3 linked regions of the Homo sapiens genome follow. The protein of the gene in region 2 purifies or fractionates together with the protein of the main gene of each other region. This does not show direct contact. Each region holds a gene or a part of one and is shown on either strand. Other genes may lie near its edges.

Region 1 (9,062 bases), on a different chromosome or scaffold from region 2:
TATTTTGGTAAATTCTTAAATGCCATCCTAGCTTCTCCCTTTCCCTATTCATATTATTAAGTGAATTTAGTCAACCCTGAAGAATCTTACTTGGTGCCTACTCTGCCGGGTTCCATCTTGGTCTGTCGGGAGTTCCCTGAGGGAGGAGCAGAGTGCCTCAGGACTTGACCACGCACCTGGCCTCCGCCCCATCTCCCACATGAACTCCAGGCTTCAAGGGCAAGAGGTAGCCCTTACCTTGTTCCTATTTGAGGCTGGCATCCCCTGTAGTAGAACAAAGATCACCAACTCCATTTCTGTGGCATTCCAACCTGTCTCTAATTGTCTTGGAAATGGCCTGAGACTTGGGAAGGAAACCAGTGATGTCCCTACCCCTTTATCTTCTGCCCTGACCAGGGTCATCCAATCTCCTGTACTGCCACCACCATTTTTGGCACATAGAGGACTCTTTCCTTTCCCCATTACCTTGCTTTTAACCAGGAGCAAACTTTTTCCTTTGTTTACCTGAGATAAAAGGATCTTTTCAAAGGGAATTTACTGAGAAATGTAGGGGAAGCAAGAGAATAAAGGAAGAAATGATAGACATACACAGATCCACACCTATATACCCAGAGTCCCATCTGAAATGACTCAGGTTCCTGGGTTCTGCATAGAAGGCCTCACTTTCTTTCTTTGTCCTGTCACTTCAGGCTGGTCCTGCTCTTAGGCCAGGGGGCTTTTATTTTGGTTTTTGGACTTGAAGTGCAGATAATTGCATTAATTGCTCTTTTCAGCTTCTAACATATTGTCATTATAGAGTTTTTCATGGTTCTTTATTCTGTTTCTTCTTTTCCTCCAGTTCCCACTTTCACTCCAGCGCCACATTTTAGGCATCCTGTTGAGTGTGTTTGACTTCCTTAAAAGCTATATGTATCCTTGTGCAAAGTTAGTGTTAGTGTAGTGATCTTTGTTGGTGTTGGTGTGTGTGTCTGTATGTATGCTTTTTTTTTTTTTTTTATTGAGATGGAGTCTTGCTCTGTCCCCCAGGCTGGAGTGCAGTGGCATGATCTCAGCTCACTGCAACCTCCGCCTCCTGGGTTCAAGTAATTTTCCTGCCTCAGCCTCCCCAGTAGCTGGGATTACAGATGCACACCAGCATGCCCAGCTAATTTTTGTATTTTTAGTAAAGATGGGGTTTTGCCATGTTGGCCAGGCTGGTCTTGAACTCCTGACCTCAGGTGATCCACCTGTCTCACCCTCCCAAAGTGCTGGGATTATAGGCATGAGCCACCACACCCGGCCATCTATATGCTTTTAATGTAAATGGATTTTTTTTTCCTGCTTCCTCCTTAACACTGTGTTTTTGAGATTCATCCAAGTTGTCTGTACATCTAGTTTGTTGCATCTTTTTGCTGCATAGTAGTTCATGGAATACTCCCAACATCCTATCCAATATTTGGTTTATAGTTACCTTCTTTCTTTTTTCCATTTTGATGGAAAAGTAATATTTTACTAACATTTTCATTTGCATCTCTCTAATTGCTAGCCAGTAACTACTTCGTATATCTTTTAGCCTTTCAGTCCTCTTGTGAATTTTCTGTTCACCTCCTTTGCCCTTTTTTCTCTAGGTTTCCTGTCTTTTTCTTCTTGATAGAAATTGTAGCAAATTCTTTGCATGTTCTAGATCTGAATCCCTTGTTGGTTTTAGATGTGTATATTTTCCCCAGCTCCATCAGATGTCAGTTAATGTTGCCCATGCTGTCATGGTTGAACAGAAATCTGTCATTTTGATGTAATCATATCTATTAATTGTTGAGCCAATGAAGTATGATTTGGGGGTCTTATTTAAGAAGGTTTTCCTTAAAGTTTGGTGGAATGCTTTGTCTTTCCTATAGCATAGTTCCTAGTTGTCTCTCTGGGTTTGACACTAGGTTTGCCCTCTGAGTCCCTGGGCTGGGCCCACTGAACTCTGTGGCTGTTTACTGTTCCCAGTGGCAGAAAGGCACTATTGCCTCTGGCTTTGTATTACTTTGGGTGAGCACAAAGGCCTGACCTCATTCAGGCTGCTGGAGTGTTGGAGCTAGGGGAGAGGGGTGGGGTGGGGGAAAGAGAGGTGGGCATCTGGCCCAGTCCCCTCCTGTCCCCTAGGCTTGTAGTGGCGGTGGAGGAGGCCTTCACTCACATTAAGCGGCTGCAGGAAGAGGAGCAGAAAAACCCCAGGGAGGTGATGGACCCCCGGGAGGCAGCCCAAGCCATCTTTGCATCCATGGCCCGTGCCATGCAGAAGTACCTTCGGACCACCAAGCAGCAGCCCTACCACACCATGGAGAGCATCCTGCAGCACCTTGAATTCTGCATCACGCATGACATGACGCCCAAGGTAGGCCTGCCCTGCTGCCAGCATCCTTCCTCCTTCCCCAGCTCCTCTTCTTTCCCACCTTCATTTTCCCTTATTCTCTCACTACTTTCCTCACTGTCCACCTCATTTCTCTCTCCTCACCACCTCCTTTTTATAATCTTCTCTCTCATTCCTATTCCACCTGCCCCATCTGTGTGGGGTGAAGTCTTTAGGTAGATGAGGAGAAGGGAGTCCTCAGGACCATTTTGGGGATGGCTGAGACTTATTTCTCATCTCTATGAGGGCTCCGGAATTACCAGATCCAAAGGCCCACTTTCACCTCCATTACCCTCTTCACCTCCACTAGCTGGTCTTGGCTTTGTGTCATTTTGAGCCATTGCCCACCTTCAACTCTATTGCCAGCTTCCTAGAATTGCTTTCCCTGAGCCACCCTTGGTGAGCAGGTAACTAAAGATGTTGCACTTTAACCTTGACACCTTTGGCTCCCTCCTGGTGCAGACCTGCTTGGCACGAATCATACAAGCTGTGTGGGAAGGAAGGAAGAATGAGGGAGGGCTTGCCCAGGTCACAGCCTGGTGCAGGGAGAAGAGCAGCAGATGGGGGTCAGGGGAGCCGAGTTCAGTCCTACCTGATGAGCCACATCCCCCTGTGCACTCCGGCTTCTTCATTTATAAAATGAGGGTCTGAAGCAGATGATCTCAGGCCCCTTCCTGCTGTAACATTCTGAGGTTCTAGTTCATATGCATAGAGTGAGCTCAGGGACGTCCTTCTTGTCTTTGGAAACTATGACCTAGGGGATGAAGGACCGTGGGTAGATGACAGAGATTCTTATGCAGCCCCTTCTTTCCACTTCAGGCCTTCTTGGAGCGATACTTGGCGGCTGGACCTACCATCCAGTACCACAAGGAACGCTGGCTGGCCAAACAGTGGACATTGGTGAGCGAGGAGCCGGTGACCAACGGCCTCAAGGATGGCATCGTTTTCCTCTTAAAACGCCAGGACTTCAGCCTGGTGGTCAGCACCAAGAAGGTCCCATTCTTCAAACTCTCCGAGGAATTTGTGGATCCCAAGTCACACAAGTTTGTCATGAGGCTGCAGTCTGAGACCTCAGTGTGACTGTGCAACAGCAGGGGGAGTGGGAAACTCTGGGGGGTCCTGAGGGGGTGGGAGGGGGCTTGGTTCTCAGGCCCAGCCACATTCCTGCCACCCTTCTTCTTCTTGCTCTTTTTTTTTTACTTGAATTAACGCACCCCCACCTTCTCTCCTCGCTTCTTCCTTATTTTACCCCATGTGAACCTGGAGAGACCATCCTGCTGTCAACAGTACCTGGGAAGGACTCCCACCTCACCAACAACTTTTGTATTACTCTAGGCCCTGCAGGAATCAGTGCCTCTCTCCCTCTTCTTTCCCTAGTCTTTTCCCAGATTACAGTCTCTCCTGAAAGGGCACAGGGCCCTGCTGATTGTACTTTCCCCTCCTGAGCCCCGACTCACAAATCCAAGTTCTTAAAACATTTCTCTTCAGTGGCCCAACAGGGTTTCTCTGGGGCACATGGACATGACTCCAGAGAGCCACAGTGCCAAACTCCTCCAGGGCAGCAACTGGCCCTCCTGTCCCTCACCCCAGCCACAACAAACCCTGGGTTCTAGGGCAGGGATACTCCTGCCACACAGCCCGAGTTAGAAATCTCCTTGCTAGGAGCATTTGCTTCCACATATATTTAGAGCAAAGAAGGATCCCATCCTTTTCCCAGAAATCTCCACCTAATGTTTTTGGTTTGTATGGTCACGTGACCATAGGCAACCACGTGGAAACCCTCTGTGACCACTTTTCCAGGGACTTAGGGGAAGGTACCTTTCTTCCAATGTGTCTTCCTAGGCAGCCCCTGAGGAGGAGGGCTGAATAGATCCCTGAGGTTTTGGAGAGACCCCCATCACTGACTCCTGCTCCCTAACCCTACCCTCACTTTCGTCCCCGCTCTTCCCAGTGAAGGATGGTATGTAGACTCCTGTACAGACATAGTGGCTTGCAGACCCTGACCCAGCCCCTGTGGTCTTAGACAAATGTTTTTATTTTTGTCACCAGCCACCCCTGTCCTGCCGCCTTCTCTCGACTCCAGAGACCTGTTGCCTCATCTCTTTTGGGGAAGAGCCGGCAGCTCCTCCTCATCCCCTGCCTTAAGTCCAGTTCTTTGCCTCAGGGGTCTCGTTTCCTTGGCCTTCCAGGGTCCCCACCCCTTTTCTCCCTGCCTGATTCTCTGAGCTCTGGGCTCCGTCTGTATTGGGTTGAGGGGCAAGGATTACTGCCTTTTGTAGGTACTTCACCCCTCACCCCATTTTAGCTTCCATAGTCTTTGCACCAAATCCAAATTCTTGATAATTTAGATCTCATTTTGAGCAAAATTTGCTGGCCCTCTAATAAATATTTTCAATATAAATCTGAGCCTTTGACTCAGACATTTTTGCCAAGGAGAGTAGAATTAGGAAGTACCCATATACATCCAGCCAGGATCCACATGGAGGACCTTTCTGATGGCTGCAATGACTAGGCCATTCCTCTGAGTAACTCACAGTGTCCTTTTGTAGGCCCTTCTTTTCCCTGAAAGACTGGTTGGTACTTACCTTGCAGAGCACATCCTGGGATAAGATCCCCAGTGTCTCCCCTGGGAGGCTCCCCCTCTGTGTAGCACCAGCCCTGGGAATGATGGAGCCTAGTGATCGGGGTTTCTCCTGCTGTCCTTTCTGCAAAAGTTCACTTGTTTACCCACCGCATGCTAGAGAGGAGCTCATTGGCCAATGCTTACCTTGTCCCCAAAGGGGTGGGTTGTGGAGCTCACTTAGGCAGGGCCTCTGGCTGGGGCCAGGGTTATGAGATAGGCCTGTATGAAATATGTCCTGTTCTGGGGGTCTGTCTCTTTTCTTCTCTTCAAAAACTTTGTGTCAGAGAGTCCCTTCTGAGTCACATAAATACCTCACTATCCTGGAAAACAGGGCCTGGATGGTGACTGGGGTCATTGCCTTTGTGGACAGGATGGAGTGTGGTGTGGTCTGAGGAGCAGGTTGGGGTGGGGGAGAGGGAAAGGATTTGGGATCTTAGTTGCTGCCCTAGGTTAGGGGCTGGGGAGTGTTTATTTTAAGATCCTGCCATGTTTTTAATCACTGTGATTTTTTTTTCATTCCCCTTTCCTAAAAAAAATTTTTTGCCTCCAACTCTCTAAGCACTAAGGGCTGTGCCTGAGAATGGTAGCATTTTGGTCTTTTGCTTCAGAACTGTGGTATCTTTGTCTTTTTTCATTATTATTATTATTATTATTATTATTATTACTATTGTTTTTTAAAATGTCAGGATGAATTGTCAGACATATGGCCATGTGTTTGTCCTCTGCTTCTCCCCTGTGGGAAGTTGTCTCCATGCTGTGAACTGCTGTGGGGTGTGCAGCTGACTCAGTCCCTCTGAGCAGTTTCCCCACTGTGTCTGTCCCATCATGCGCTGGATCTGCTCATTCTCCTGCTGTGGGGGTATGCCCACCTCTTACCCCCTTGACACCATAGGGCTGCTGTGGCTGGGCCTCACCAGCACTGTCTTTTGTGTGACTCATGGCATCCTCGTTCATCCCCACCGTGCCTAGCAGGCCTTCCTTTTCACCACCTCGGAACGCTTGCCTTTCCTCCCTCCACAACAGGACGCTGTGCCTCAGTCCTTCACCTACCTCGCCACTCTGCCACTGTCCCCATTGGTCCTTTCTCCTAAACTGGTCTTTGTGCTCTCTTTGTTTTTTCTTATTTCCCTCTTGTCTCTCATTTTTTCTTCCCATTCCCCTCCCATTTCAGCCCTTAACTTTTCTCTTTCCCATCTCCACTCAGTATTCCAATGGCAAACCCTGATGATGTAACACCTGCGATGAGACATCGGACTCTCCGGAACTTTCTCATCTGACACGTCTTTTTCCCAGGGTTCGTACTTCTCCTCCATTGGTCCCAGGCTAACTCCCCTGTTCCTCTGTGGTGTCTGTCAGTCCGTCTGTCTTCTCTTTCCTCTGCCCTTCCCACAGGGCAGTATCTGCTGATGGATTCAGTCCTGGTGTGTGATTGTTGTGATTTGTTCTTCCGTGCGCAAAAGGAAGAGGGCTTTTTGAGTCCCTTCCAAGTGAGATTGTAAATGTAGAATTTTCCACTGTTGGATCTAGATTTTTTTTCCTTTTTTTTGGGGGGGTGGGGTTACAGAGCTGAGACCTTGTGCATGCATGTAGAAAATTGTAAAATGTAAATTTTTTTTAATATATAAAAAGCTTGTTTCTACAGTTTGCAGTGGATCTAAACATTACGGCAATTTTAGGATTTTTTTCTTAAACATAGGAACTAAAACTGTACAAATTTTTTTTATATAAAATAAAGACATTTGACTTTTGTGGGGGCATTCTGTTGCTTTTCTTTCTTTACAGGAATGGGAGCAAATGAGGGCCAGGGAATAATGAATATATTCCTTGTTAGGGAGGGAATGGGCAGGAGGGGGCAGTGTGAGCTCATCATTGCTCTGCAGGCCTTCAGGGTGTGTTGGAGAGAAATGGGAAAATGAAAAAGGAAATTGCTTATTCTGAATCCTGATTCTAAAGAGAGAGAAACAACAATGTGAGGGCTTAACCACTTCCTGGTGTAGTTGTCAGGATAGAGAAAGAAAGATTACTTCCTGGGTCCACCCTCCTGAGCAAGCTTGTGTCTGTATGGCCTCTAGGGCAGGAGTGGGTTTCTAAAACGTATTTCTAAAACATAAAGTGCCATAGGAATTTCAGGGGATAGTTGAGATTTCAGTCAGTGGTGACAGCCCATCACAATTCATTGAGACAAGTTTCTGTAGTATATATATTAGTTCTAAATATGTAGAGAGTTCAGTGCTCTGTTGTCACTGTAATGCATGTAATCAGGTACTAAAATCACCCTCAAGAGATTGGGTCCCTTCTCCCAGTCTTACCTGGGCCTGACCTCTGTGACTTTGGGCAAGATGCTTAGCATGTAAACAGCCTGCTAAGGTTAAAAACAAGCATTTCTGTATGGAGGTGGCCTATTCACTAGATTTCCTCCTCCTCTCCCCTGCCTCATACTCTGCCAGGCTCTGGGGATGCAAAGGCAAGAGAGGCTCCATCCTGGAGGATGACCCAGTTTACAGGGGTGACAGGCTGGGTGACCCTAGTGCAAGGCTTCATGGCGTGTTCTCAGGCAGAGTGTAGACAAACCCTGGCTGGATTCCAAGGAGCTCGGGGAGTTTCCTTCAAGAAATCTAGGAAGTTTGTTTAAGACTCAAGATGGGGGAACACACTCACCTTGAGATTACATTTTGTTCATCTAAGTATTCCTAGAATTGAAACCAGTTCCTCGCATATAGTTGGTCCTCAATAAAAAATTGTTGCATGAATAATGAACTGAACAACTAACAATACAATAGGGGCTCATGAAAGGGATCATATACTTGCTTCTCCCTTTAAAATTGCACTCCAGTCTTTCTCATGTGAAAACAAACAAAAATACTTCCCTTGAAATTGCATCCCCATTCTCACGGCTCTGTTCTTTCTGTAACTAGGTTTGTAGAATAGTTTCACTTGCTGTTTCCAGTTCATTTCAGAGTCAACTTGTGACTTACATTGTGACCAAATTTCTACCTTAGCATGCCTCTGAAATTATTCTTGTTCTCAACAGCCAAGTATAGTAAACACCTTTTAAGTTTATTCTTTATTTAGTGCCTATGATGTTCCCAGCCTGATACTAAAGTACTTTCTCTGGTAAAGATACTGGATATGGTCCTGCCCTCACTGAGCTAACCTTGGTGGACCCTTGAGAAGGCTAGTTAACCTCAGGGACCTCCTCTTGTAATGCTGGCCCCAGGAATTCATAGATTTAAAGCCAGACCTCAATATTTGATTGATAAGATCATATTTTCTCTAGAGGTTTGCTGCAAGCAAAAGTGATAATCCTGACCATTTGTCAGGCAGCAAAGGGTATTTGTAACTTTTGTTTGAAAGGATGTGTTTTCCACAGAAGTTCTTCACATAGCACTGAAGTTAGGGACCCAGCTTGGTGGATTGTCAGGGTCATGCCTGGGACTTCATGACATTATATGTGATTATATGTGATTACATATGCTGCCCATGTGTGATTTTTGTTTTTTAGCCTTTGCCTTTGAAATACAGCCGAGAGGGGGAACTGGGGGCTGGGGCTCTGGCTGAGGAGACATAAAGATCTTTAGACCAAGGTCTCAGTGATTTGTTATTAGTTTTTTATTTTTTAATTTTAATTTTTTTGTTACTATTTTTTTTTGTTTGTTTGGGATAGTTTAATGGCTTCTACAGACTGAAAGTCAGCTTGCTTAAGGTAACCCTTGGCTTTTTTGTTACTTTAAGCATATGATAGTAATGCTCTTCCAATTGCCAGGAAGGCTGGGGTAGGGGAAAGTCAGCCTTTGGAAAAGCACTGCAGCATTAGTGTACACATGGTCATGGAAGATGCTAGAGAGATAATAAAGGACCACCTACATAGTAAATCTTGGAGAATAGTCATCCCTGTCTAGCTCCCCAGTTTCTTTTCAGGCTGAGAATGGGGTCCATTTCTCTTGGTACAAACGGCAGGGCAGACATGACATCCTACCTGCTCATAACAGTGAATGCCACATTTGAGTATGTAGAATAGTGGGAGAAGGTACTGGTTTAGAGTTGGGAAACCTGGCCAAGGCATTG
Region 2 (11,455 bases):
GAACCCACTCATAGCTGGTTGTTTTCCAGAAACCTTGAAAGGTTAGCATCTCCCCCCGCCCCAACACATCTCTATGCTGATATTTGGCCTCTTCCTTAGGGTGTTTGTTTTAGCGTCTTTAGGGTCTTGCTGCATACTGAATACTTTTGTACCTCTTTGTGATGTTGCATGGTCAGCCTGTTGGCTGCACAAGGGAAAAAGGGACTCCTGGCCTGGGCTGGCCTGTGGAACTGCTGAACTGATAGCTTTACTCCTTAACATCCATCTCTCCTGAAATACCCTGTGTATGTTCCCTAAATACTAATGAAGTCTTGCCCTGGTTGCTACTTAGTGAACAGTTTTTTAATGCAATTTCTCTGTATTAGTGGGGCAGAGTGTTTACTGCTTAAAGTTATCCAATGTTAATTTTCTGGTTTTGACTATTATAGTTAATATAAGTTATCGTCATTAGGGGAAGCTGGGGAATGTGAATTCTCTCTGCTGTTTTTACAACTTTTTCTATAACTGTAAAAATATATCAAAAACATTGTTTTTTAAAATATGGAGGTACAGCAGCGTTTTTATTTTTGGGGGCATTGTCAGCCTGCCTCTTCAGTTCTGTTGAAGGCCTAAAATTTGTCTCAATGGTTTGTCTCTATAGGAAACTTTTCTTCTGGCTAAAGAAGAAAGACAGCTTGGTGAAGTGACTGAGCAGACAGAAGGGACAGCAGCCTGCATCCCACAGAAGGCAAAAAATGTTGCCAGTGAGAGGGAGCTCTACATCCCATCTGTGGATCTTCTGACTGCCCAGGTGGAAGATTCAGCACTTTGAAGGGCAAGGGACAGAGGGAGAGAGCACAGGAGAGAAGGTGGTAGAGCCATAGGCAGTAATCAGGAAATCAGAGATATGCCCACTTTGATCTAGTCAGGTATATTTAATGGGAAGGAGATCACCCATGGAAGCAAGTTTGTAAACTAGATGTTTCCTCTTTGAATTGGGAACTCAATCCTGTACTTCCCCACAAACTCCCTTTAGTTGCCTCTTCACCTTGGCCTAGCTAATTCTCCTTCATACCTGCTGCATTTTCTCTTTCCTGCTATTGGGTTATTTCAACATCTAATTCCCATTTAACTCTTCTTGTTTTCACTTGTCTGGGGACAGGCATGAATTTGAACAGAGTTGAATACGAAATGATGTGGAAATGGTCTACAGGTCCCATCAAGACATGGCTCCAGCATGCACTCCAAACAGCCTAACATTGTCTTTTTTTATAGGACCTGCTGTCCTTTGAGCTGTTGGATATAAACATTGTTCAAGAGTTGGAGAGAGTGCCCCACAACACCCCTGTGGGTAAGAATGTCACTCATTTCATCTTGTTCGTCTTACTAATAGGCACAAAAGTACCACAGCCTAGACACTGGTAGTGTTTTATTCTGAGGAAATGGCAAGGATTTCTCCCACAGTAGGATAGTAAAGCAGCAATCATGGATCCGTTTTTCTTCTTTCCTGTCCTTTGTCAAAAGTAACAACATGCTGGGCATGGTGGCTCGTGTCTATAATCCCAGCTCTTTGGGAGGCCAAGGCAGGAGGATCACTTGAGGCCAGGGTTTGAGACCAGCCTGGGCAACATGGTGAAACCCCCATCTCTACAAAAATTACTTTTAAAAATTAGCTGGGTGTGGCCAGGCACGGTGGCTCACGCCTGTAATCCCAGCACTTTGGGAGGCTGAGACGGGCAGATCACCTGAGGTCGGGAGTTTGAGACCAGCCTGACCAACATGGAGAAACCCCTTCTCTACTAAAAATACAAAATTAGCTGGGCATGGTGGCACATGCCTGTAATCCGAACTACTCGGGAGGCTGAGGCGGGAGAATTGCTTGAACCCAGAAGGCGGAGGTTGTGGTGAGCTGAGATTGCACCATTGCACTCCAGCCAGGACAACAAGAGCAAAACTCCGTCTCAAAAAAAAAAAAAAAAAAAATTAGCTTGGCATGGTGGCCTGCACCTGTGGTCCCAGCTACCAGGGAGACTGAAGTGGGAGAATCTCCTGATCCCAGGAGGCAGAGGCTGCAGTGAGCCAGGATTGTGCCATTGCTCTCCAGCCTGGATGACAGAGTGAAACCCAATCTCAAAAAACAAACAAAAAAAAGAGGCTGGGCACGGTAGCTCACGCCTGTAATCCCAGCACTTTGGGAGGCCAAGGCTGGTGGATCACAAGGTCAGAAGTTCAAGACCAGCCTGGCCAAGATGGTGAAACCCCATCTCTACTAAAAATACAAAAATTAGCCAGGCATGGTGGCAGGTGCCTGTAATCCCAGCTACTCGGGAGGCTGAGGCAGAGAGTTGCTTGAACCTGGGAGGCGGAGGTTGCAGTGAGCCGAGATTGTGCCACTGCATTCTAGCCTGGGTGACAGAGCAAGACTGCATCTCAAAAAAAAAAAAAAAAGCAATAAAACAAGTTCGTGCAAGGCTTTTCCACTATAAAGGAATCCTCTTCTCTTTTTTCCCTCTAGATACTTGTGTCCTTTTGTTCCTTTATGTTCATGGTTTTGTGTCTTGGCCACAGCTTTCCAGGCTAAATAACTGTGATTCTTCCTGCATTGATTGATCTGAGATATTTTGCTTACTTATTGGTCTGGAGAAATTTTTTGTAACAGACCTCAAAGCATATCTTGGTTTATTTTAGCCCTGCGGGAGGCAAGAAGCCTACAAACTGCTACTTCTGGACACTGACTGTTGATGATATGATGCTTTCTCTTGATTGATGGTTCTCCTGTCTTCATTCTCCAGATGTGACTCCCTGCATGTCTCCTCTGCCACATGACAGTCCTTTAATAGAGAAGCCAGGCTTGGGGCAGATAGAGGAAGAGAATGAAGGGGCAGGATTTAAAGCACTTCCTGGTAAGGGATTAAACATTTGTAAAGTATTTGCATCCTCCCTTTCCATATCATACCCTATTTTACAGCTATCCCCTACTGACCCTACCTTAGCATGTAAATGGGCTTGCTTTCTGTAGCATCTCATGTTTTGAAGTCTCCTCACCTTCACATGGCACAGATAGCAGCTATTCCTTGGTTTAGTTTTAGCATGGGTAATGACTGGTGAATGTTCTTCAGCACTTTAAACACCAAGTGCAGACAAAGTTTAGATAGCAGCTATTCCTTGGTTTAGTTTTAGCATGGGTAATGACTGGTGAATGTTCCTCAGCACTTTAAACACCCAGTGCAGATAAGGTTCGTGTGTCTTTCAGATTCTATGGTGTCAGTAAAGAGGAAGGCTGAGAACATTGCTTCTGTGGAGGAAGCAGAAGAAGACCTGAGTGGGACCCAGTTTGTGTGTGAGACAGTAATCCGATCCCTTACCTTGGATGCTGCCCCAGACCACAACCCTCCTTGCAGACAGAAGTCCTTGCAGAGTGAGTGTCCTTGCATTTCCCCTACCTAGCAGGGTGGCACCTGAATTGTGACTGCCAGACTTGACTAGTTAGATGTGCTCTTCTTCACTGAGACTGAAGGGAGAGTGATCTTAGTTAGAAGTTCTGATCTTGGCGGGGCGTGGTGGCTCAAGCCTGTAATCCCAGCACTTTGGGAGGCCAAGGCAGGCGGATCACAAGGTCAGGAGATCAAGTCCATCCTGGCTAACATGGTGAAATCCCATCTCTACTAAAAATACAAAAAATTAGCCTGGCGACGTGGCGGGTGCCTGTAGTCCCAGCTACTCGGGAGGCTGAGGCAGGAGAATGGCATGAACCCGGGAGGCGGAGCTTGCAGTGAGCCAAGATTGCGCCACTGCACTCTAGCCTGGGCGACAAAGCGAGACTCCATCTCAAAAAAAAAAAAAGAAATTCTGATCTTGTTTGTGTCTTTAGACTCTACGTATGCTACCTGACTGTTCTAATTAGAGCATCAGGAGTAAAGAAGCCATCATACTCATTTCTCCATCTTCTCAGGGGCAGAATTACAGCTGCATTCCACAGTGGAATAGCAGCCAGTTGTGCTGCCTGGATTCTGCAGTAAGGAATCTTCCTGTAATTTGACAGAGCTCCTTAGCAGAGACCCCTATGGGTAGCTGAGTTGTCTGCTTTCTCCAAGGGCAGCAGTCCCAGAAACAGTGGATAGAAGCAGGAGTACCAACAAAGTTTCTCAAGGTTAAATTCTGCTGTAATAAATACCTTTATAGGCCGGGCACAGTGGCTCACCCTTGTAATCCTAGCACTTTATGAGGCTGAGGCGGGTGGATCACCTGAGGTTGGGAGTTCGAGACCAGCCTGACCGACATGGAGAAACCCCATCTCTACTAAAAATACTAAAAATTAGCCAGGTGTGGTGGCTACATGCCAAGGATTACATGCCTGTAATCCCAGGTACTTGGGAGGCTGAGGCAGGAGAATCACTTTAACCCGGGAGGCGAAGGCTGTGGTTAGCCGAGATGGCGCCATTGCACTCCAGCCTGGCAACAAGAGTGAAACTCCGTCTCAAAAAAAAAAAAAGGAATAAATACCTTTATAACAGAAACTTCTAGGTATCAGATAGATAGAACCAATAGCATATATTTTAAGAAGTATCCAAAAATTCAAATATACTATGTCAAAATAATATTGGAGAATCTCTTTATTATAATCAAATTTGACCTATATCTTTAAATATTATTTATCTTACTTTTGTTTAAAGTATACATGTAAGGCCAGGCGCAGTGGCTCACGCCTGTAATCCCAGCACTTTGTGAGGCCGAGGCGGACAGATCACAAGCTCAGGAGTTTGAGACCAGCCTGACCAACATGGAGAAACCCCATTTCTACTAAAAATACAAAAATTAGCTGGGCGTGGTAGCGTGTGCCTGTGATCCAGCTACTCAAGACGCTGAGGCAGGAGAACTGCTTGAACCCGGGAAGCCAAGGTTGCAGTGAGCTGAGATCGCACCACTGCACTCCAGCCTGGGTGACAGAGCGAGACTCCGTCTAAAAAAAAAAAATAATAAAGTGTACATGTGGCCAGGTGCGGTGGCTCATACCTGTAATCCCAGCACGTTGGGAGGCCGAGGTGGGCGGATCATGAGGTCAGGAGATGAAGACTATCCTGGCTAACACGGTGAAACCCCATCTCTACTAAAAATACAAAAAATAAGCTGGGTGTGGTGGCGGGCGCACCTGTAATCCCAGCTACTCGGGAGGCTGAGGCAGGAGAATGGCGTGAACCTGGGAGGTGCAGCTTGCAGTGAGCTGAGATCATGCTACTGCACTTCAGCCTGGGCAACAGAGTGAGACTCCATCTCAAATCAATCAGTCATGTATATCTTTATATTTTTTTCCACATGTGTGTACAAATACATAACAAAAAGGTCTGGAAAGACAGTACCAAAATGTTCACAGCTGTTATTCTGATAGGATTTATGGGTAATTTTTTTTTTTTTTTTGAGATAAGGTCTCACTCGCCCAGGCTAAAGTGCGAGTAGCAAGTTTATGGCTCATTGCAGCCACAACATCCTGGGGTCCCCCTACCTCTGTTTCCCAAGCAACTGGGACCACAGCCACATGCTACCACAATGAGCTAAATTTTTTTTTTTTTGTAGAGATGGGATTTCGCCACGTTGCCCAGGCTGGTCCCAAACTTCTGAGCTCAAGCAGTCTGCCTGCCTTGGCCTCCCAACGTGCTGGGATTTTAGGCGTAAGCCACCACACCTGGCCTGGGTAGCTTTTTTTTTTTTTGGGACACAGTCTCTGTCACCCAGGCTGGAGTGCAGCAGCGCGGTCTCGGCTGACTGCAACCTCCGCCTTCCCAGGTTCACACCATTCTCCTGCCTCAGCCTCCCGAGTAGCTGGCACTACAGGCGCCCGCCACCATGCCCGGGTAATTTTTTTGTATTTTTAGTAGAGATGGGGTTTCACCGTGTTAGCCAGGATGGCCTTGATATCCTGACCTCATGATCTGCCCACGTTGGCCTCCCAAAGTGCTGGGATTACAAGCGTGAGCCACCGTGCCTGGCCCTGGGTAGCTTTTTTCTATCCTTTTTTACCCTCTCAAACATGATTGGCCAGTTTTCTCCCATGACTGCATCATCTTTGTAAAGAAGAGGAGGAGATAGACATATAATCCTGCAATACTCATCTCCTAACTTTTTCTCTTTTTATAGCACTGTTAGTGTATCAGTTTTGGTTTAAACTCTACTCAGTATATTAACCATCACATAAAAAGGAAAAAAGGGATGGAGCTGCCTCCTTTTATGATTCATAGAGCTTCTTGGAAACCTGAGTGTTTCTGCCTACCTTGTTTCTGTGAGCTTTGATTCTATTTTGTTTTGCATAGTCTTCAAACTTAGAATATGGTCATAGTTCCAGAACCAGCCCTTCCCTTTAGTTCTTCCCTCTCCTCTGGCTTTCATAATTCTAGCTTATGATCCACAAGGCTTTACCAAGTAAGGATAGTACTTAGGCCTGCTTTTAGCTTCCACCTTAAAATTGGTTGCTTTCATCCTTTAGTGACATTTGCCTTGCCTGAAGGACCACTTGGAAATGAGAAGGAGGAGATTATCCATATCGCTGAGGAAGAAGCTGTCATGGAGGAGGAGGAGGATGAGGAGGATGAGGAGGAGGAGGATGAGCTCAAAGATGAAGTTCAAAGTCAGTCCTCTGCTTCCTCAGAGGATTACATCATCATCCTGCCTGAGTGCTTTGATACCAGCCGCCCCCTGGGGGATTCTATGTACAGCTCTGCGCTCTCACAGCCAGGCCTGGAGCGAGGTGCTGAAGGCAAGCCTGGGGTTGAGGCTGGGCAGGAACCAGCTGAGGCTGGGGAAAGACTCCCTGGAGGGGAGAACCAGCCACAGGAGCACAGCATAAGTGACATCCTCACGACCTCACAGACTCTGGAAACAGTGCCCCTAATCCCAGAGGTAGTGGAGCTTCCACCGTCACTGCCCAGGTACCACTCACAGCCCCCTCAGCTGGGGTGTTCTTCAGAGGTGAAATAAAGAGAGGAATCGACCTGATCTCAAAACCTGTTTTTTCCTCAGTATGGAAAGAGACTATTTTCCATAGCAAAGTCTGAATTTAGATGAATAAAAGTTGTATTTCCCAGTATTTGTGGATTCTGGATTTAAAGAAATATTTGTTTTAGTTGGCCTTAAATTATCTGAGTATAGTCTGTCTGCTTATATTTTGATTATTGAGAGCTGGTTGTGTTTTTTTTTTTTTTTTTTTGAGACAGGGTCTCAGTCTGTTGCCCAGGCTGGAGTGCAGTGGCACAATCTTGGCTCACTGCCACCTCTGCCTCTGAGGCTCAAGCAATCTTCCCACCTCAGCCCCCTGAGTAGCTGGGACTATAGGCATGGGCCACCACACCTAGCTAATTTTTGTATTTATTGTAGAAGCGGGGTTTTGCCACGTTGTCCAGGCTGGTCTTGAACTCCTGGCCTTAAGCGATCCAACTGCCTGGGTCTCCCAAAATGCTGGAATTACAGGTGTGAGCCACTATGCCTGGCTGAGAGCCAGTTTTTAAACACAAACATCCCTGGACCTTCCCTCCTTGTTTTATTGACTCTTCAGTAAAGGCAGCAAAAACTCAACCCAAACAGTCATAATTAGGAAGTTAAATCCATTATGGGAAAAAACACTATAAAACCAAACTAATTATTTTTAATTCTCTGGTGAATCTATCTGAATCATTCTTGTCTCCTAATAGTAGGGAAAATGCTGGAGCCTTGACTATAATGTAAACCATTCTCCCCAAAAGCTAGACATTTCCGTTTATTGACACCACTTGATATAGGTGGGGACATGACCAGACTGAAGCCAACATTTCTAGCTTGCCTGTGGCTAAAGAGGAAAATGGGGTAGAATGTAGCCCTTATGATGGAACCCTAAATCCAGACATGTGATCTGGATCAGAAATGTGAAGCCTCTGTAGAGAATTTGGCACTGCTGTGCTGTGTTTACTATTTCTCCACTGTTGCCATAAGTGCCTTTTCAATTTACTTTCCATATTGTGTCTTTCTGAAAGGAGCTCTCCTTGTGTACATCATCATGGTTCCCCAGGAGTGGATTTACCAGTTACCATACCAGAAGTTTCTTCAGTCCCTGATCAGATCAGAGGAGGTAATGATCAGCCTAAGCTTTTTCTCTTTTTCTCTGCTCCTGTCTAATGGAAACCAGGTATAAATAGCCTCTCTCTCTTCGTGATTCTTGGTGGTTTTTTGAAACTTGCCCTTCACAGGCCAGGCGTGGTGGCTCACACCTGTAATCCCAACACTTTGGGAGGCCAAGGCAGGCGGATCATAGGGTCAGGAGTTCGAGACCAGCCTGGCCAACATAGTGAAACCCTGTCTCTACTAAAAAATAGCAAAAATTAACCAGGCATGGTGGCGGGCACCTGTAATCCCAGCTACTTGGGAGGCTGAGGCAGGAGAATCACATGAACCTGGGAGGCGGAGGTTGGAGTGAGCCGAGATCGCACCATTGCTCTCCAGCCCGGGCAACAGTGCGAGACTCCGTCTGAAAAAAAAAAAAAAAAAACTTGCCCTTCACTCTCTCCATGCTCCTCCTGCATACTCTAATTTCTATTCTCTGGCTGAATATATTGTTAGACCTCATAGAGGTAGTGGAAAGAACACAGGCTTTGGAGCCAAACAATCTAGGTTCCAGCTCCATCTCCCCCTTTCCTGACTAGCAGTTCAGCAGGTTTCTAATGGCTGTGAGTCTGTTTTCTTACTACAAAATATATCAGTGTGTTAGGATTATAGAGTTGATTTTTCTGATTCAATAAACAATCATCTTGCATTGCATTTCTGGACAGTTTCTCCTTATCACTTAAACTACCCTTAAAACTTCCCAAATACTTTAAAAAAAAAAAAAAAAGACTTCAAACACTGTGATCAGATTGCCACCTGCCTCAATAATAGCCTTGCTGTGAGTTAGGAAACAGTAGGTGCTTATGGATGCTGCATCTAACCAACAGCTCTTTTGCTTTTAGAGCCCAGAGGCTCATCAGGACTTGTAAACAGCAGACAGAAGAGCTATGACCACTCAAGGTAACAACCTTGTGCAGTCTCTTTTTTCAGAAGCAGGTGGATATTCTTGTATTCCTTCTGCTTAAAAGAGCCTCTCACAGTATGTACCCATCTTCAGAGAGCAGAGAAGGGGAGCCTTTGTTCCGTCTTATTCTTGTTTCTTCTAAAGGCTTTGAGCAACACTGAACAAACGGCTAAAGCTGATGTTTAAGAGTGTTCTGTTTGGGAGGCCGAGGCGGGTGGATCATGAGGTCAGGAGTTCAAGATCAGCCTGGCCAACATAGCGAAACCCCATGTCTACTAAAAATACAAAAATTAGCCAGGCATGGTGGCGGGCACCTGTAATCCCAGCTACTCAGGAGGCTGAGGTGGGAGAATTGCTTGAACCCAGGAGGCGGAGGTTGCAGTGAGCTGAGATTGCACCATTGCACTCCAGCCTGGCTGACAAGTGAAACAACATCAAAAAAAAAAAAGAGTGTTTTATGTTTCAGACAAGGAAATAGTGTCCACAAATTACCTCACTCTTAGCACTGGGGAAAAGGTAGAAAGGTTAAGCCCAGTATACATTTAAATAATTTTTTCTTGGACATACCTGGTTCTCTGCTTCCACTCATATTAGGCCAGTGTCCAGAAAATCACATTTCCTTTGCAAGGTGTTTTCTCTGAGAGAATAATTGAGCAGACAAACTGTTGATATCCTTGTGTGTCCTCGATCACATTAATTTTCAGCTAGGAGTGAGAGCCATCATGGTTACCAGAGTGGTGTGTTTCCTGCAGTGCCCCTATCTTGCTTGCACCAGTAGAGCTGGGCCCTCCATCAAACCATGATCTGTAGCTATAAAGCTGATAATGAAAGCAATTGTGTTCTCTTTTTCCATCTAATTTTTTCTCTTAAGGAAATCTTATTCCAAGGATTAGAGCCCAGATTATCTTGTAAAAAGGTAATGATTTGTGTTTGTTTGGGGAGATAATTTGGTTTTCCTCTGCAGGCACCATCATGGGAGCAGCATTGCTGGAGGACTGGTGAAGGGGGCTTTGTCTGTTGCTGCCTCTGCATACAAGGCCCTGTTTGCTGGGCCACCAGTCACTGCACAGGTCAGTGTGTGTGTTTTATTTTCCTGAATCTCAACTCCATGTCACCAGTGAAAGTGATGGCATCTGTCTGGGTTGAAGAGTAACATGGCATTGTGGAAAGGGCATAGGCTTTAGATTTAGTCTTTAGTTAACACACAACACAACTCTGCCACTTTTTTTTTTTTTTTTTGAGACGAAGTCTCGCTCTGTTGCCCAGGCTGGGGTGCAGTGGCGCGATCTCGGCTCACTGCAAGCTCCACCTCCTGGGTTCACACCATTCTCCTGACTCAGCCTCCCGAGTAGCTGGGACTACAGGCGCCTGCCACTACACCCGGCTAATTTTTTGTATTTTTTAGTAGAGACGATGTTTCACCGTGTTAGCCAGGATGGTCTCAATCTCGTGACTTCATGATCTTCCCGCTTCAGCCTCCCAAAGTGCTGGGATTACAGGTGTGAGCCACCGCACCTGGCCAACTCTGCCACTTTCTAACTATATGACTTTAGCCAAGTTACTTAAGGGAAGAAAAGAGAAGAATGTATTATTGATGATCTATTAATATTTTCTATAGAGAGAAGCTATTCCAGGTGTTGGCACTATGGCATGAATAAAACACCAGTTCTTGGCCGGGTATGGTGGCTCTTACCTGTAATCCTAGTACTTTGGGAGGCCAAGGTGGGAGGATTGCTTGAGCCCAGGAGTTTGAGACCAGCCTGGGCAACATAGTGAGACCCCCATCTCTACAAAAAAATTTAAAAATTAGATAAGTATGGCCGGTACAGTGGCTCACACCTGTAATCCCAGCACTTTGGGAGGCCGAGGCAGGCCGGATCACAAGGTCAGGAGATCGAGACCATCCTGGCCAACATGGTGAAACCCTGTCTCTACTAAAAATACAAAAATTAGCTGGGCGTGGTGGCAGGCACCTGTAGTCCCAGCTACTCGGGAGGCTGAGGCAGGAGAATTGCTTGATCCAGGGAGTCAGAGCTTGCAGTGAGCCGAGATGGCACCACAGCACTCCAGCCTGGCGACAGAACAAGACTCCATCTTAAAAAAAAAAAAAAAAAAGTATGATGGCATGCACCTACAGTCCCAGTTACTTGGGAAACTAAGGTGGGAGGATCACTTGAGCACCGGAGGTTGAGGCTGCCGTAGTGAGCCACAATGGAGCCACTGCACTCCAGCTTGGGTGACTGAGCGAGACCCTGTCTCAAAAAACAACAACAAAAAAGACACTGAGTCTTGCCCAGAAACTATGGGAAACAAGTGAGGTGCATGGATACTTAAAGTACATAGTAAGATACTATGCTGGCCGGGTGTGGTGGCTCATGCCTGTAATCCCAGCACTTTGGAAGGCTGAGGCGGGCGGATCGTGAGGTCAGGAGTTCGAGACCATCCTGG
Region 3 (11,455 bases), on a different chromosome or scaffold from region 2:
ATGAGACCTTTGCTGGAGGTGTCCATCCTGCTATTGCTCTGAGGGAGTATCGAAAGGTAAAACAAATTCTAATACGGTTCCTCACCCAAATAATATTATTTTAATACTTGATTTTTTTTTTTTTTTTTTGGAGACAGGACCTCATTCTGTTGCCCTGGCTGGAGTGCAGTGGCTCAGTCATAGCTCACTGCAACCTCAACCTCCCAGGCTTAAGTGATTCTCCCACCACAGCCTCCCAAGTAGCTGGAACTACAGGAGCGTGCCACCATGCCCACCTAATTTTTTGTAGGAATGGGGTTTCACCATGTTGCCCAGGCTGGTCTCAAACTCCTAGGCTCAAGCGATTCTCCAGCCTTGGCTTCCCAACGTGCTGGGATTACAGCCACCACACCTGGCCATTCTTGATTCTTATTCACTTATGTGTTTCAAAAAATGTTACTACAAGTAGTTCTGTATCTTATATAGGAGCCAGTGTCCGTTATAGACTCAGCAGTACTTAAAATAAGAAAAAGTATTGATTACACACATAAAATTTATTTTAACCAGTTTCCATTGCTAAACATTACTAAGAATATCCTTTGCAAACAGTATTTTTGGTAATAATCAGAATATTTGTTTTACCTTAGCTGTAAGTTTTTTTTAATAATTCAGTGTGCTCCTTGAAAAATTGAAAGTATTAGTGAGTTTTGCAAAAGGATTACATAAAATTAAAGCTATAATCTATGCTCTATGTTTTATGGACATATCTGTGTTCTAATCAGTATCCTCCAGTTGAGCTTTCTGAAATGACATAAATCTTCACTCTCCAATGTGGGTTGCCACTAATCACATGGGACTTTTGAGCACTTAAAATATGGCTAGTGTGACTAGAAGTAGAAATAGAACTTGTTGATGAAGAGTAGTGGTTCTCAAAGTGTGGTTTCCCTACCAGCAGTCTTAGCCTCACCTGCGACCGTATTAGAAATGCAAATTCCTGAGGCCCGTCAGAGACCTGCTGAATCAGAAACTCTGACGTTGGGACTGTGTTTTAACAAGCCCTCCAGAGGATTTCTGATGCAGGCTTAAGTTTGAAAGCTGCAGGTAAGGGAATAGTTTTGTTTTGTTTTGTTTTGTTTTTTTAAGAAATGGGGTCTCCATCACTGGAGTGCAATGGTGCTATCATAGCTTACTGTAACTTGAAATTCTGGCCTCCCAAAGCACTGAGATTACAGCCATGAGGCACTGCCCAACCAGGATAGAATGTAGAGTAAAGACTGTTTGGTTGTGAGTCCCGAGTCTTTCTCTTACTCTGTGTGGACCTGAGCAAATTATTTAACTGATCTACATCATAGTAAGTTACTTACCTCTTAGAGTTGTTTTAACAGTTACGGTAGATGTATTATTTAAACAGTGCATTGTAGTTTCTCATGTGTATACATTCAGTGATTGTTGGTTTTTCTCAAAAATTCAATTATTTTAATCTTACATTTAGCTGTAGAGGACAAGTTCTTACGTGGAACATGTGTATATCGCACATATCAAAGTCATCAGCCAAAAGTTGATCATCCCAGAGATATGTCCTTATATATACTCATACACACTGCCCCAGCATTTGATATGTTGATAAAAATATCTGGCACCCTTAATAACCTGACAGGTTTCATAAGTACAAAGTGCCTAGGCTGCTCAATAATGTACACTGCAGCCCATAGAACAAGTAAAGTAATTGAAGAGAGAAGTAGAAATTTCAGGCAGATTCTTATACAATTTTATTGTCCCTTCTTCTAAAACTCCCATATTCTAGCCTTAAAAGATTGACCCCCGCAAAAAAATGACTTTGTATTTAAAAAGCTCTGGTAGAGAAATGTTAAAGTGTTTTAATTTTGGAGGTATTTTGCATTTCCTTACATTTATGTTTTTAATATGTATTTTGGTCTTTTTCTACAGAAAATGGATATTCCAGCTAAATTGATTGTTTGTGGAATGACATCAAATGGTTTCACCATTGCAGACCCAGATGATAGAGGCATGTTGGATATGTGCGGCTTTGATACTGGAGCTCTGGATGTAATTCGAAATTTCACATTAGATATGATTTAACCATAAGCAGCAGCACGATCCAGAGATCCATTGCCATCAGTGATCTCACTAAAAATATACAGCTACTTCCCAGCTAATCTCCACCCAATGAATGATGATGGTATAGTATGTGCATAATGGAAAGTTACCTTACTGAAAAAAAAAAAAGAAGGAAAAATAAGATGGGCCCAAAGGTCTATCTACTAAACTAGCTCTTGGGGAAATAGCTTCAGGATACTGTAGTTTCCTCTATCTAATAGAGAACTTTTTGTTAACAGACACTGTAAAATAGTTTTGCTTTGTTGAATAATACGTGTGTACCTAAAAGAGGTAAGAGCAAAAAGTGTAATTCCACATCATGTTACTTGAGAAGTGCTTAACGTTTTCTTAAATGTTTTCATTGGGAAAGGACAGCTTTGATAATGTCCAAATACTCTGAAATGCACTAGACCATATAACTGTGATGAAATATGAAACTCATCTGTAAACTTTTATACCAAGGGGGTAAAAAAAAAAACTAAGGCATTTGATTAAATTATGAATGAGTTTTACAAATTCCTTTCAGAGTTTTACTAAGATCACACAAATAACAGCTTTCTTATTCAGTGAAAAAGATATTTTATTTCTGATGTTTTATTTGCACTTGTGGAATATGTTACCATTAATCAGAAACATCATGGCAACCCCTAAGAATAGACTAAGTTTGTGTTGGCTGAGGGATTCTATTTGGTTTGCTTTTTTTTTTTTGCTTTGTTATATTTTATTGCTACAAGGGGTGTGACTTGATAATGATTTCCTCTGAATTATAATAACATAGCCAGATGTAGTCTCACACTGTTTTTCATACTCTTAAGTGTAAATAATATAAAATGTTTCAAGCGCTTAACTCCCCCTCATTCACAAAGTATAACAATTAAAATCTCAACTATAACCAGTTTAGCTTTTTCCTTACTTTTAAAATAAAATTTTTTACTTTTAACTATTTTTTTAGTTAATATTTTTAAAAGTATACATGTCAATGGCCTCTTTGTCCATTATTCATTTTGTGGCAAAATATTCTTCTTTGATAGTGTAAACAAATAATAAAGCAATCTAGGTCCTTTAGGTTTGAAAGGCAATTTTTGAGTAGCATATTACCAGCTAGCCAGTCACTAGGAATTTTTTTCAGTATTATTTGTATGTATTAAACTTTTCATTACACTAAAGTGCATTATTTTATTGAGCAAGTATCCTTCATTGTGAGGTTTAACATTAAAGCAATCTGTTGAAATGCCATTATCTTTGCTCATAATTTTATTATGGCCGTCTAAGGTAGCTTACACATAAAACCTGTTTGCGTATCTGTTGTTCTCTAAATATTAATTGAAGATTTACTGAGGATTTGTAAGGTCCTTCTCGCTGTTATGTGAAAAGTCAAACTGTAGTTAATGTAAATTATAGCCTTTTAGGTGCTTGGGGGTTAGAGGGTTTATGTTTTTTGGGAAAGGGGGACTTTAGTAGTCTGAGGATTTCTGTACATATTTTCTTCTGTTTTATGTGAAATTTGGGCTCTGGGAATAAGAAAATATTCCTTTCAAATTTATTTGACATATTAATGCTGGTTTTGATATGTACCCATTCCTTCAAGGCAACTGGTATCAGTTTTTAAGTGTGATTTACCTGAGATATTTTTGTTCAGCAAAGCTCATAGCACCCTCACCCCCACTCCAGACATGCATTGCTTCTGATGTTGTTCACGTTTTTAACCCTGTCAAGCATTGAACTGAATATATTAGCTACTTTTGACACATTAAAATATTACGTTCAGATTGAATTTAAAGTTTAAAGAAACTAATAGAATTACGTAATAGTTATTGAATTGTTTAAGTAAACCCAAGATCTTAAAAATTATAACATGATCATTTTATTCCTAATAGAAATGTTAAATAGAATATAGTACAAAAGTGCATTACCTTCAGTTGTGTACTATTTCCATAATACTTTTAGACAAATATATCTATAAGTTAATATTAAATCCATCAAGGATACAAGATTGGATGGATATGACCTTTCTGAAGTATTTAGGTAGGTCTAATTAAATGGACTAGGGTAACATTTAAGAAAGAAAGGATAAGTAGGAGAAGCTACCACAGAAGGTAACTTTTCAAATCATGGCATATTTGAGCTGGAAGAAACCTTAGAAACCTAAAAGCTAATTTTTTAAATTTTTGTTAGAGAGCTGAGGTCCAAGACAGAGTGTGATTTTGAAGTACTATAACCTAGAAATCTTGGTCTCTTCATTCCTGTGCCAGAATTTATTTCCCCACAACATGGGAATACATGGTCTCAGAAGAGTAGAGGATAAAATAAAATTATTTAAGACTTTTACCTTATTGAGTTATTAGGAAATAATGTATATACGATTGCTTTAGGAGTAGAAAAATAGAATGGGAACATGTATAATCTTGTAATTCATAGGAATCCTCAAGCACAATTAACCTGTGTTGCTATATATATCTACATATATAGAGAAAAAACAAAAACTTTACCTCATTATGAATAAAATGTACTGAAGTGATAAGTTTTTTATTTCCTGAGTTACTTTTAGGATTACTGTTAAATTAATATTTGGGAAAATACTGCTTTTAAAAACAATCCTGCAAGAATAAACAAACTTTATTTCCTAGGTAGTATGTAAATAGTTCCAGGATATAGTTGTAATTAGTAAAACAAAAACTAATCTTATAATCCCACCCTTTATTAGTTGAAAGTTCTTGGAAATTCCATTTATTAATACTTATATTATTTAGTAATCTATCTTATGAGAGTGTTAGTGAGGCAAGATGCTAGTGAATGGAATTTAGTGTTACCCTTTGACACCTCCTTTGCTTTATCTAACTTACTGTGTGACTGTAGACAACCAGTTTAACCTAAGTGATTTGATTATTTTTATCCTTAAAAAGTAACATATCTGTGCTTGGATCATAGAAGAATCAGTGATTTAATATTTGTATAAAAATTGAAACTGGGAAGAGGGCTTGCAATACAAGTTAGAATTCTTTTTTTTTTTGGTTAAAAACATTCTTGTTAATAAGATACGTATTTCAAAAGATAAAATGTTTTAGAAAAATAGCTCACTCAATAGGCCTAACAGTGTTTTAAAACATTCCTGTTCAGAGTAGAAAAATTTAGAAGAAAAATTTTCACAGCTAAAGTATTACCCAAAAAGTCACTATTCTCTACTGAAGAGGGAGAAAAAATATACTCCAAGATCTTCTTGGACAGACCTAGAAAAACAAGCTTATACTCTGAGGAAATGCTGTTAACAAACTTTTTTTTTTGAGACAGGCTATCCCTCTGTCACCCAGGCTGGAGTGGCATGATCACAGCTCACTGCAGCCTTGACCTCCCAAGTTCAAGTGATCTTCCCAAGTAGCCAGGAACACTGGTGTGCACTGCACTACCACGCCTGCTTTTTTTTTTTTTTTTTTTTTTTTTTTTTTTAAGAGACAACGTCTCACTGTGTTGCCCAGGCTGGTGTCAAACTCCTGGGCTCAAGGGATCTTCCTGCCTTGGCCTCCCGAAGTGCTGGAATTAGAGGCATGAGCCACTGCACCCAGCCAGCAAACATTCTCTTAATCTTTTAAAGTAACCAGTAAATCTACAAATAGTAAAGTACTATTTTCATCAGGGATTTTTTTTTTCTTATTTTCTAGATTTTACAGAAACAATGTGAAATTATTTTGGAAAGATAAGGTAGGATTCTTGAATAAATCTGAAGGTCTCACAATTAAGTGAGAAACACCTTTAAAAGCATAGTAAAGCTACACCTAAATAACTAAAGCCTAAATCATTGTAATGTTTTGTTGGACTTACTTTAACTTGACCTGTTGTAGCCACAAATAACAAATTTCTTGGTAACTGATGCTATTACAGTAGGTAATCAAAAATGAAAAATTCTAGTCTTATATACTGCAGGTTTGGGGTGATTGTTAAGGCACTATCCCCTCTGGAGAAATGTCATATGGCATCAGTGTAAACATGCACAAGAAAGAATTTGTAAAAAAAAATGACAGGTTAATCAATGAAATTAGTTGTATTTACTGTTTGGATTTTATTTAGTGTTTCCTTGATGTCTGTTTCCTCATCTCTTATTTGTTGGAAGATTACTTTTCTACCTCTTTTTTTTCTTTTAAAATTCCTTTCTTACATTTCTGTTGTTTCTTTTTCTAGTCCTTCTCTATCTGGATAATAAAATGAATGACAGGAAAGTCACCCACATAGAGGTTTGGGATGAACCTTTTGCAGATTGCTTTTTGTTTCATACAAGTATAAGATCATATTTTCTTTTTCAACTTAGTAATAGGCAGGCTTCTTGGAACAATAAGTAGATTGATACACTCCTCCCCAAATCAAATTATATTGTATATCTTTTATATTAGATGTTTGCAGAAATTCTGTGGCCTTTAAGATCAGTTATTCAGCCTTTGTAATTATGTTATCTAGCTATGTTGAAAAGATAAGTGCTTACTATATAAGCACTCTTAGAAAAATAATTAACTGATTACTCTTTCAGAAAATAGCAGGTGTCTCAATGCTTTTTTTCCATAATTATAAAGACCATTGTCAAAATCTTTGGTTTACTAAATATTTCACTGAGCATATATAGAGATACGTTGCTTGTGGCATAAAAAGTCTTGTAGATAACTTACTCACATTTGGCTTTTTTTTAATTGGTGCATTTTTTAATTTGCTTTTTTGAAAATTATGAAGTTAAAATTTAATTCTAAGGTAGTATTTTTCATGTATAAAACTAATAATGTAGTTAAGCATACTGTTTGAATAAAATTATAATAAATGGCACAATTCCTTAAACCCTGAAAATACCAAGTTATATTGGAAAATAGTGGAAAGAAAAAACTAGTGGAGAACATCTTAGAAAATTCTATTGTGGAAATTACGATGATTATTTTCAGTGAGAATGAATTTATATATACAACAAAAATATACAAAAGCTAACCTTCTCATCCTAAAAAGATTTTTCCCTTTGCTTCTGTTTTATTTAGCCCTGCCATGCACCACATTAATTTTATGAACATAAATGATATTTAACTTTTCTTTTTTTTTTTTTTTTTGAGACAGAGTCTCACTCCGTCACCAGGCTGGAGTGCGGTGGCGCGATCTCAGCTCACTGCAACCTCCATTTCCCAGGTTCAAGCAATTCTCCTGCCTCAGCCTCCCAAGTAGCTGGGATTACAGGCACGCGCCACCACGCCCACCTAATTTTTGTATTTTTAGTAGAGACGGGGTTTCACCATGTTGGTCAGGCTGGCCTCGATCTCGTGACCTCGTGATCTGTCCGCCTCGGCCTTCCAAAGTGCTAGGATTACAGGCGTGAGCCACCGCACCTGGCCAACTTTTCATCTTAAGTTGTTTAAATTTATGCACTTTTAGATATCAGAATATATGCTTGAACAAAGGAAATAGTAAATTAGCTATATGTCTGCTGGTTTCACTTCGATGTGGATATGGATATGTGGATAAAGACAGTAAATGAAATTAAAACCCTGCTGTTTTAAATATCATTACCAGATATAATTGAGGGAATATTATATCAACAAACATATTGAAACTTGGCTTTATTTGTAACGTAAACTATATATAATCCATACGTAGCCAAATTAGATTTAAAATATACAATTAATGAATAGTACTCAAAGTGTTTTTGTTGCACTGTTACTCTGAATATGGACTCTCTATATCTGGTATGGCGTGACTGGGCATAACTTCTGTAATGTATTTCAGTTATATGTTTTTCCTTTTATTGCCAGCTTCTGATAATGAAATTTTCCAAAGGGATGAGATATAAGAATCATCTTTTATAAAAACCAGTGGGGAGTGGGGTATTATAATCTAGTTCTAAACTGTCCATTTGCTTTATATAAAGGCTTTGATTTCAATAACTGACCATTTGATGAATATTTAAATTACACAGAATAATGTCTACATAGAATAAACTTAAGTATTCAAGAGCCTTAAAGTGAAAAAATGAACCTTTTGACTGCCTTAAAATACTACTTGCTCTGTAATTCAGGCATACTAGTTACTTTCCTTGGGGTCTGTTTAAATAATGCCTTAATAGTGTTCTAATGTTTCTGAAATACAGAACTCAAAGGGTCTTTTAGAGCTTTTAATTTTACATAGTGAATGGAAATTTAAGTATTACATTTTAAAACCTGATTGTACATTGGTAATTTAAACATCCAATAACAGGAAAATCTAGATACAGTGATGTGTTATACATACATGACTGTTAACATCAGTAATATTTTATGATAGTTTAAGGTTTTTTATTGTTTTCTATAACAAGTTATCCAACAGGTTGGACTTTGTAACATGATATCCAAGGACCAAGTTGCATATTTAACATCGAATGAAAATGTAGTTGTACAGTTCCAAAAATAATTAATTTTTTAAGGGAATTTTTCAAGACAAAAGGCAAATATTTTGTTTCAAACCTACAAGCAAATTCATTCCAAGAAGTGAATATAGTAGTAAAACATAAAGACTATTGCAATAAAAAGTTTCCAGGCCAGTGACTTGTTTAATTACATTCACATTTTTACATTCACTTTGCCTTTCAAAGCAGGAGTATTTTATAAAACTGAAATAAAACTTTAAATTGTCAAGCTGGTGCTTAAAGTTATGTAAAATCTGATTTAAGTTTATTTCATTTCCAAGGAAAGGACCCTGAAAGGAGGGGACAGGGAGCTTCCTAGGTCTGTTGATAAACTAACTGATGCTTTGTCAAGTCTTCCAAGTTTTCACTGTAAATAATACAACTAACAATGTAATTTTGCTGTTTTCTAATAGAGAATGAATGAATATATTAATGTATTACATTTGTTTCATGATAAAACAGTTTTCACTGATACTGTGAAATCCTTTCTCTCCTTTCTAGCCTTGCAAAATACCCTACTAAATAAATCATTTTAGACATGGAGTGCAGGTGGACACTGTGTGAACTGTTTTTGGTCAGTTATTGTAGAAATTGATAGATGTACCAAATAAACTCTATGCACATTAAACAAGTGTCTGTCTATCTCTTTCAAGAAATACGAATGTTAAGGTTATAATATGCCTTAAAAAATCTAAAGCCTTTAGTAATCTTGTATTTGAACAAGGTAAAATTTAAGTTTTGATAATTAATATTGACCTTTTAATGTATCTAGTTTTATGTAAGTATTAAAAGTATATGAAGTTAAAGATTCTTTACCCATGGAATTCAATTATAACAAAATGATTAGATTTAATGAAAACAAATTATTTAAAGTTTTAAAATAGGATTCTTTTGTGAAAAGATCTACTCAAAATTGCCTTTGGCAAAAGTTATCATCCAAACACAAAAAGTCAACTATGCAAATAAAAACACTGTTTCAGTGCCAATTTGCAGACATTTTTCTCTCAATTCCCATAAAAATTTTCTGAAAAGTTCTAAGATCTGAACTGTGGGTAACTGAAAGCAAGTTACATCAGAATATATTCACCAAAACTTCAAAACATTTGGTTGATTTTACAGCACTCATTTCAACACTTGTACAAGAAGGATCACAAATTATACATACTAGATTTAATAAATTTTAACAATATTAAACCTTATGAAGAAAACCTGACTTTAAAAGATGTTGTTCAAATGGTAATTTTTTATCAGTAAACAGTAAAATCCAGGTACAGAAGATCCCTTTTTTTCTTCAACAGCTTTTCAATTACAGATATTTTGGCAATTAAAATGTAAATTGATTATCTAATGATAAAGTGAAAAATGGCCTAGTTTTTTATATTAATGAACTCCAGTAAACAGCTCGTATTTCAGATCTTAAAATAAAGGGCCGGGCATTGTGGCTTACACCTGTAATCATAGCACTTCAGGAGGCCAAAGGAGGAGGACTGCTTGAGCCTAGGAGTTCAAAACTAAAAAGTTGTAACTATGGGGATCTTGCTGGGCAACACAGTAAGACCCCCATATTTACAAAAAACTAAAAAGAATTAGTTGAGCATGGTGGCATGTGCCTGTAGCCCTAGCTATTCAGAAGGCTACGGTAGGAGGATCACTTCAGCCCAGGAGTTTGAGGCTGCAGTGAGCCATGATAGAGCCACTGTTCTCCATCCTGGGCTACAGAGGGAGACCCTGTCTCAAAAAAAAAAAAAAAAATGTAAATAAAAAATGTAAAAATAAGGACTGAGGAAAAAAATTACAAGTTTTTCTTAGTCACCATTATCTTACTTTTATCCAGCTGTAAGGTATGGAAAGGGAGAAGAAATGGAAATCAATATCCAAGACAACACGAAACCCCAGAGGCTTCCCCTGCCCCCTAAATTCTTGGCTGGGTACAGGCAGGAATCTTGGAAAACCCTGATGGGTCCACAAGAAAACACACATACCTGAACCATTGTGATTAATGATAGCCATTATGTATTGTCTATTAAAAACCACTCTGAAAGATTTACATGTATTATCTCCATTCCTCAAAAAGTAAATCCTAAAGGAAAGTACTATTACCTACATTTTATAAGAAACTTGAAGTTCTGGGAGGTTAAGTCACCTACCTAATGGTTACACCTTTAGTGATCTGAACGCTTGTCTGTCTTGGCAAATCATCAGCTATGCTCTGAAAGTATATTACGAATTTTTTTAACTGAAGATTTAGTGGTGGTATGCTGTGGTCTCCTATCTAAATCTTTCTCCCTTAACCCCCAGCTTTGTAACCAGCCCCTTGCATACAGTTAAAACTAAAGCTGTTGGCATTCCACGATTGGCACTGTCAGTAAGGGAGCTGCTGGCTTCAGTGCTTCCCTATATCCTTGGATTCTGCTCCTGGTTTTGTTTTCCTCTTGGAGAGTCCCTATACTTTTTAAAACCTGCTTAGCCTTGCATTTTTAAAAATTTATTATTGTGTCCGATATTTTAAACGTTTTAGAGCGGCAAGCTTTTGTTATTATTGTTTTGGGGTTTTTTTCAAAGATATTTAATGTGCCATATGACAAAAAGAGGTCAGATTTATTGTTATTTTCTTTCATTCCTTAGCGTTTAACAAATAGGAGAGATCTGCTTCCTTTTTGATGCAGTGCTAAACCCTCCAAAGTAAAAATCTTTTATTAGTCAATGAGTTTAATTCAGAAGACTAAGATGCAGATATTAGAAGGGTTTATTTCTTCTATTTTAAATAAAGCCATAGTGAGAATCAGGTATCATATTACCTTCAGTAGAGTTTTTGAGGCTTTTGATAAGGCTTCTCTCCCTAATGTTGAATTCTTTCAAGATCTGAACATAATCAAGAACGAACCACCACTCGCCTCTCACCCTATGTCCTACCAGTCTAGGAAGCATTGATAAAAGATGTTTCTTCACAGGCCAGGT

What was found.
Region 1: the proteins of NBR1 (region 2) and VANGL2 purify together in Homo sapiens (affinity purification with western blotting, with the first as the bait; 2 studies listed by BioGRID). This does not show direct contact.
Region 3: the proteins of NBR1 (region 2) and RO60 purify together in Homo sapiens (affinity purification with mass spectrometry; 2 studies listed by BioGRID and IntAct, with this or other methods). This does not show direct contact.

Annotation. Positions count from the first base shown.
Region 1 is NC_000001.11:160,421,925-160,430,986, forward strand, and holds the end of VANGL2 (vang-like protein 2), read left to right. Parts: intron 1-2,127; coding exon 2,128-2,359; intron 2,360-3,193; coding exon 3,194-3,454; 3' UTR 3,455-6,746; downstream 6,747-9,062. UniProt on the Homo sapiens protein: Involved in the control of early morphogenesis and patterning of both axial midline structures and the development of neural plate. Plays a role in the regulation of planar cell polarity, particularly in the orientation of stereociliary bundles in the cochlea.
Region 2 is NC_000017.11:43,193,710-43,205,164, forward strand, and holds part of NBR1 (next to BRCA1 gene 1 protein), read left to right. Parts: intron 1-640; coding exon 641-790; intron 791-1,254; coding exon 1,255-1,330; intron 1,331-2,771; coding exon 2,772-2,882; intron 2,883-3,232; coding exon 3,233-3,397; intron 3,398-6,457; coding exon 6,458-6,899; intron 6,900-7,976; coding exon 7,977-8,071; intron 8,072-8,945; coding exon 8,946-9,003; intron 9,004-9,971; coding exon 9,972-10,077; intron 10,078-11,455. UniProt on the Homo sapiens protein: Ubiquitin-binding autophagy adapter that participates in different processes including host defense or intracellular homeostasis.
Region 3 is NC_000001.11:193,082,653-193,094,107, forward strand, and holds the end of RO60 (RNA-binding protein RO60), read left to right. Parts: coding exon 1-56; intron 57-1,926; coding exon 1,927-2,079; 3' UTR 2,080-2,336; coding exon of another isoform or gene 2,337-2,350; 3' UTR 2,351-8,567; downstream 8,568-11,455. UniProt on the Homo sapiens protein: RNA-binding protein that binds to misfolded non-coding RNAs, pre-5S rRNA, and several small cytoplasmic RNA molecules known as Y RNAs.